Linked DNA regions of Homo sapiens. The protein of the gene in region 1 purifies or fractionates together with the protein of each later gene. This does not show direct contact. Each region holds a gene or a part of one and is shown on either strand. Other genes may lie near its edges.

The links. Proteins that work in one complex are often made in the same cells at the same time.
Region 2: the proteins of ZIM3 (region 1) and DDI2 purify together in Homo sapiens (co-immunoprecipitation; one large-scale study listed by IntAct). This does not show direct contact.

The regions. Positions count from the first base shown.
Region 1 is NC_000019.10:57,135,203-57,138,702, forward strand, and holds part of ZIM3 (zinc finger imprinted 3), read right to left. Parts: intron 3,397-3,500; coding exon 3,270-3,396; intron 1,770-3,269; coding exon 1,671-1,769; intron 894-1,670; coding exon 1-893. UniProt on the Homo sapiens protein: May be involved in transcriptional regulation.
Region 2 is NC_000001.11:15,620,458-15,623,957, reverse strand, and holds part of DDI2 (protein DDI1 homolog 2), read right to left. Parts: intron 1-3,500. UniProt on the Homo sapiens protein: Aspartic protease that mediates the cleavage of NFE2L1/NRF1 at 'Leu-104', thereby promoting release of NFE2L1/NRF1 from the endoplasmic reticulum membrane.

The sequences.
Region 1 (3,500 bases):
GAGGTTTTTCTTCTGGATAAAGGTATTTCCACATAGATCACACTCATAAGCTCTCTTCCCAGTGTGAATTTTCTCATGATCGATGACATTGGATTTCTGGGAAAAGGCCTTCTCACATATGCTACATTTATAGGGTTTCTCTCCCGTGTGTATTCTCTGGTGTTTCACAAGATCTGACTTGTAAATGAAAGCCTTTCCACAGTCCGTACATTGAAAGGGTTTTTGTCCAGTGTGAACTTTTTTATGTTGAATGAGGGTTGAGTTCTGCCTGAAGGATTTCTCACATTCATTACACTGATAGGATTTCTTGGCATTATGAATTTTCTCATGATTAATGCAGGATGATTTCCAGGAAAAGGCTTTTCCACATGTCTTACACTGATAGGGTTTCTCTTTAGTATGCATTTTCTGATGTTGAAAGAGATTTGACTTCTGCTTGTAGGCATTTCCACAGTTCTCACATTTATAGGGCCTTTCCTCTGCGTGAGTTTTCTGATGTTTATCAAGCTTCCACTTCTCCCCGAATGCTCTTCCACAGCTATGACATTCAAAGGGTTTTTGACAGGCATGCCTCCTCAGGTGACTTTGAAGGCGTGACTTTGAACTGAATAACTTTCTACAGGCATTACATTTCAGTTGTTGTCCTACAAATTTGGATGGATTATTGCCAACTAATTTTCTGTATCCATTATCATCGTGAGAATTATTTTGTACATAGTGTTGCAAGGAAGATACATCATCTATGCCCAGTGGAAGTATTTTCTTAGATCCGTCACATTCTACACCTTTCTGCGTAGTCAGCGTTTCCTTATTGATTGATGGGACTTCTCTTGCGAGACTCTCTTTCACATCCTTTGGCTTCCAAATCTGCCCTCCAATGTCCCCATTTTTTTCTAAAATGGAATACAAAAAAATGTCCTGTGTAAAACGTTCCACTCACATGCTTGAAATAAAATGCCATAAACAATCTATTGTGGTGATTATTCTGGCTTCAAACCTAATGTCTACGAGAAACCAAAGTTAATATAAGCTCTGTTAGAGTTCTATGTGAGCTAATGTTACATGAAGCTATCACATATCTGTCTGTAAAGGACTGAGCAACGTAGACCTAGTGCACAGGGAGCAGGTGAGAGCCTAGGGATACCAGGGAGAGGGAGATTAAGAAAGAGAGTTTGCCAGGCCAGGCACAGGGGCTCACACCTGTAATCCTAGCACTTTGGGAGGCTGAGGCGGGTGGATTGCCTGAGGTCGGGGGTTCAAGACCAGCCTGACCAACATGGCGAAACCCTGTCTCTACTAAAAATACAAAAAATTCGCCGGGCATGGTGGCAAGTGCCTGTAATCCCAGCTACTCGGGAGGCTGAGGCAGGAGAATCGTTCGAACTCGGGAGGCGGAGGTTGCAGTGAGCCCAGATCGCGCCACTGCACTCCAGCCTGGGCGACAGAGACTCCGTTTCCAGAAAAAAAAAAAAAAGAAAAAAAAAAGAGTTTGCCTGCAAAGGAAAACCCAGATAAGAATGTAAAGAAATTTCTGAGTGGAGAAAAATACCTGGAGATTTCTTCCAGCACTCCCAGGAAGTCACAGCTGGCTGCCAAACGACTTCCTCATTTAGAAAAGCTGAATTGGCTTCCATGCACCATTGACCCACAGTGCTCTCCTGGTCACCTACCTGCACGGCCACTTCCCAGCACTTCCTCTTCCTCCAACCATGGCTCCTTTCCTTGTTCCAACCTCAAGATCACATCGGGTTTGGTGGTTTCCCCTTGTCCTGTGATGGAAGATACCGCAAGGCTTGGTGTTTGTGGATGTGTGAGTTGTTTGTGCAAGTGTATGAGTGTATATAAGCGCTTGCGTATGCTTGTGTGAATATTTGTGTGTGAGTGTGAGCATTTATATGTCAGTGTGTGGGTATGTGCCATTGGTTGGGGGGAGTTGTGTGGATGGATGGTTTGAGGGAATGCACCTGAGCAGTCGAACTAAACAAAGAATGCTTTTTCTGGGCTGGGTGTGGCGGCTCATGCCTGTAATCCCAGCACTTTGGGAGGCCGAGATAGGAGAATTGCTAGAGCACAGGAATTTGAGACCAACATGTTACATGTAACATGAAGATAGCAAGACCCAGTCTCTACAAAACCAAAGCCACGTGTGGTGGTGCACGTCTGTGGTCCCAGCTATTCAGGAGGCTGAGGTGGGAGGATGGCTTGAGCCCAGGTCAATGTTGCAGTGACGCCAGGCGTGGTGGTTCATGCCTGTAATACCAGAACTTTGGGAGGCTGAGGCGGGCCGGTTATCTGAGGTCAGGAGTTCAAGACTAGCCTCACCAACATGGAGAAACCCCATCTGTGCAAAAAATACAAAAATTAGCCAGGCATGGTGGTGCACGTCTGTAATCCCAGCTACTCGGGAGGCTAAGGCAGGAAAATCACTGGAACCTGGGAGGCGGAGGTTGCAGTGAGCCGAGATCACACCACTGCACTCCAGCCTGGGTGACAGAGCGAGACTGTCTCCAAAAAAAAAAAATACTACAGTGAGCTATGATTGCACCACTGCACTCCAGCCTCGGTGACACAGCCAGACCCTGTTAGGAGAAAGGAGATAAAGAAAGAGAGAGGAATGGAGAGAGGGAGGGAGGGAGAAAGGAAGGAAGGAAGGAAGGAAGGAAGGAAAGAAGGAAGGAAGGAAGGAAAGAAGGAAGGAAAGAAGGAAGGAAGGAAGGAAAGAAGGAAGGAAGGAAGGAAGGAAGGAAAGAAGGAAGGAAGGAAGGAAAGAAGGAAGGAAAGAAGGAAGGAAGGAAGGAAAGAAGGAAGGAAGGAAGGAAAGAAGGAAGGAAAGAAGGAAGGAAGGAAGGAAAGAAGGAAGGAAGGAAGGAAGGAAAGAAGGGAGGTAGGAAGGGAGGAAGGGAAGGAGGCAGGGAGGGAGGGAGGGAGGGAGGGAGGGAAGGAAGGGAAAGAAAGAAATGCTTTTTCTTCTTGGAGGATAAAGCTTTTCCAAAAATCAAGACCAGGAGTAGGGTGAAGGGCAGGGCACCCAGCCCACAAAACTTACAGAGGCCCTCACTCATTCTCCCGGCACTTGCCGACCCTGAGAATGGGGGCTCCTTCAATACAGCACTTGGTACACTTCACTTGCCTCACCCTAGTCCCGGCTCTACAAAAACATATGCGAAGTGAGGAGCACCTCTGTGCCAACCCTATTTGGCCAGCCATGGGGTGTCTGTGTGTTTCACGCCTTAGGTTTTGAGTCCCCCTGCCCGGGAAGCCGTCCTTACCCACAGAGACAAGGTTGCTGTAATTCTCCAGCATCACATCCCTGTACAAGTTTCTCTGTTCGGGATTCAGCCGCTGCCACTCCCCCTGGGTGAAGTTCACAGTGACATCCTCGAAGGTCACTCTTCCCTGTAACAACAGATTCCCGATCAGTATAAAAATGCCATTGAATCCTGCGGCTGAGGATACAGAAACTTGTTTCTGCTGAACCAAGCTTTAATCATGTCCATAAT
Region 2 (3,500 bases), on another chromosome or scaffold:
TGAGTAGCTGGGACTACAGGCACCTGCCCCCACAAGCGGCTAATTTTTTTTTTGTATTTTTTGTAGAGACGGGGTTTCACCATGTTAGCCAGGATGGTCTCGATCTCCTAACCTTGTGATCTGCCCGCCTTGGCCTCCTAAAGTGCTGGGATTACAGACGTGAGTCACTGCGCCCGGCCACTAACTATTTATAAGAGAAAATTTATTTATTTACAAGGAGGAAGCAAACTCAGGAGAATCAAAATGATCCTATGCAGGCTGGGTGCCATGGCTCACGCCTTAATTCCAAAACTTTGGGAGGATGAGGTAGGAAGATCATTTGAGGCCAGGAATGCAAAGCCAGCCTGGGCAATACAGCAAGACCCCATCTCTAAAATAATAATAATAATAATAATAATAAGCCAGGCATGGTAGCATATGCCTGTAGTCTCAACTATTTGGGAGACTGAAGCTGGAGGATCACCTGAGCCCAGGAGTTCGAGGTTGCAGTGAGTTATGATTGTACCACTGCACTCCAGCCTGGGCAACAGAATAAGATCTTGTCTCTTAAAAAAAAAAAAAAAAAAAAAAGAAGAAGAAAACTGCAATTGGAACTGTCTAATTTCAAAGCCCATTACTCCAGGAGTATCATATACAGCTTTCCCGAACATAACCCTAAAGTGGCCTGGTGAATTAGCTGGGTGATTTTAACAAGTACTACTAAGCCATCCATTGCCACTAAGAGACTCTATCCACTAAGAGGATCAAAATACTGTCCACTGCTCAACGCATCCCCATGCCCTGGACATGAAGAAACACCACCAACTGCCCGCTCTGACTCCCACTTCACAGATGCCATACTTCACTCCATCACTGCTTAGTTGCCACAATATTTCCTCAGCAGACAATAGCATTTTTTAAAGGAAGGCAGCATGATCTAACAATAAAAATGTAAAATCTAGATAACCACCACATTGAGCATGTCTATGAAATATGAAATGTTGCTTCAGCGCCAATTTCCTGGAAACACTAGACTGAAGAACCTGGGTGAGGCGCACACGTTCCTCACACTGACGAAGCAGCAGCTGTGCTCCATTTTAATCTAAGGACATAAATGAGATCAACTAAAGCTTAGCTAAAATTGTAATTGCCACAAAGAACTGATTTCTTTTTGTTTAAATAGGCTTAAGAGTCCAAGAAAGACAATTATTTTGCAGCAAAAGTCCCAAAATAAATCCATGTGATCTTCCAACCAAACATTCAGTATCTATTAGACATGGCTTCAAATCTCTACCAATAAAAACAAAAGGGGATCCGCTGCCGGCATTCTTGATCCTTCCACCATTCATGTTACCCAACTCAACAGCTACAAAGCCCAAAATTCAAGTTTTGCCAGTTATAAGAACATACAACAAGAAAATGTATACAGCTATGAGTCTTAATCAGCAAAACTGGCACAACTGCTGGTACTTACTCCAGAGGAGGCACCCCAGAGACTGAATTATAATCTTAATCAACATTTAACAATAGACTAATTAATAAAACTTCAGAACTTTTAAGCATGAGGTCAGGTGTTTTCTGGTCTCTGAATGAGAGCCTTCTATTAACAAAAAGCTTAACAATAAATTTCTAGCATTACAGAACATAAACTAGTAGGCCAGGTGCAGTGGCTCACACATGTAATCCCAACACTCTGGGAGGCAGAGGCAGGAGAACTGCTTGAGGTTAGGAGTTCAAGCCTAGCACTGGCAAGACCTCGTCTCAAAAAAAAAAAAAAAAAGTCGCAGCTACTTGGGAGGATCCCTTGACCCCAACATGTTGAGGATACAGTGAGCTGTGATTGCAACACTGCATTCCAGCCTGGGCGAGAGCGAGATCCCATCTCTAAAATATAAAGAATAAAGATAAAATAAGGACCATAAACCGGCCACAAAACATTTGGAATTACATCTGAATGGCTTCATAATAGTATTACCATTAATCAAATACCCAATATCTACCAAGTTATCTACATATACTACCCCATGTAATAGCCAATTTGACTTGTATAATCTAAATTTACTAAAAACCTTTCAAAGACTTTATGCTTTTGATCTGGCAACTGCATATCTAAGAATTCATCCTGAGAAAACAGAAATGGAGGCTACAGTCTTAAGTATATGGATGTTCATGGCATGTTACTTACAACTGCTTCCAATTTTCCCCAATATTATGCTCAACAAAAGGGAAATTGCTAAATTACAACACATCTATATGATGGTATATTATGTAGCCTTTAAAATTATCAATTTGGGGCCGGATGCGGTGGCTCACGCCTGTAATCCCAGCACTCTGGGAGGCCAAGGCAGGCAGATCATCCGAGGTCAGGAGTTTGAGACCAGCGTGGCCAACACAGTGAAACCCCCATCTCCAAAGAAAACAAAAAAATTAGTCATATGTCGTAGCATACACCTGTAGTCCCAGCTACTTAGGAGGCTGAGGTGGAAGGATCACTTGAGCCCAGGAGGTTGAGGCTACAGTGACCTGTGAGCGCACTACTGCCTAGGTGACAGAGCAAGACCCTGTCTCAAAAAAACAAACACACAGAAGATAAAATAGTGGTTTACAAACCACAAATCATGCTGTGTGCATTTCCAAGATCATACAATTACTGCTATTATTTGCCTTTCATTTGAGGGTCCTTGTATGTTGTGCCTACTTTTTCCATATGCCACCTACAGAGGTAAATTATCATGTCTCAAAAATATGAAGACATTAATTTAAAGTGAAGCTAAGTTCTGATAACTGTTTGAAGTTCACCCAGGCAAGTCTGCATCAAAGCATCAAACAGAGCCATGACTGGCTTCCAAGCCCACACTTCTATTAAGAGACAGAACATGCCCAGCTTTAATCACATGTACAAGCAGAGATGGCTTGTTCTAAATTTGTTATCACTGCATTGTAACTACTATCATCAGACTAGAGCTGTTAAAAATTAACACCTTTTCCAACTATATGCTTATGTGCAATTGACACTCAGGTGAAAGACTGAATTCTAAACCATTGATCACCAATGTAGGGCAGCCATGCAAGACAATTCTTTAACGGTGGAGGAAGAAACTGAAAATATTAGAATTTTCATTTCCATTTATTTTAGTTCGTCCTTCCTTAAGCTCCATTTTGTGTGTGTACAATGTTACTTTACAGATAACATATTATATATGCATATAATGCACGTTATGTGTATTATATGCACATGTGGCCATATATAATGTATACAACGTATCAGTTCATGTATATAATGTATTATATACATAACAGAAGCATAATCTGAAACATTTTACTGATAGGGATACATGAATGAAAGTTTGGACACCAGTGGTGTGGACACATAGTGGCAGGAAAAAATAGCCAGAACATAAAAATATATATATTTCCTTGAAGAAATGGAATCAGAAATGAGAGGTGAAGGAATGGGAATGGAGAATGTAAACAAGAGGAGGAGTTAAACAGTCTAGGAAAGGAAGGGAAGATGAGTAATA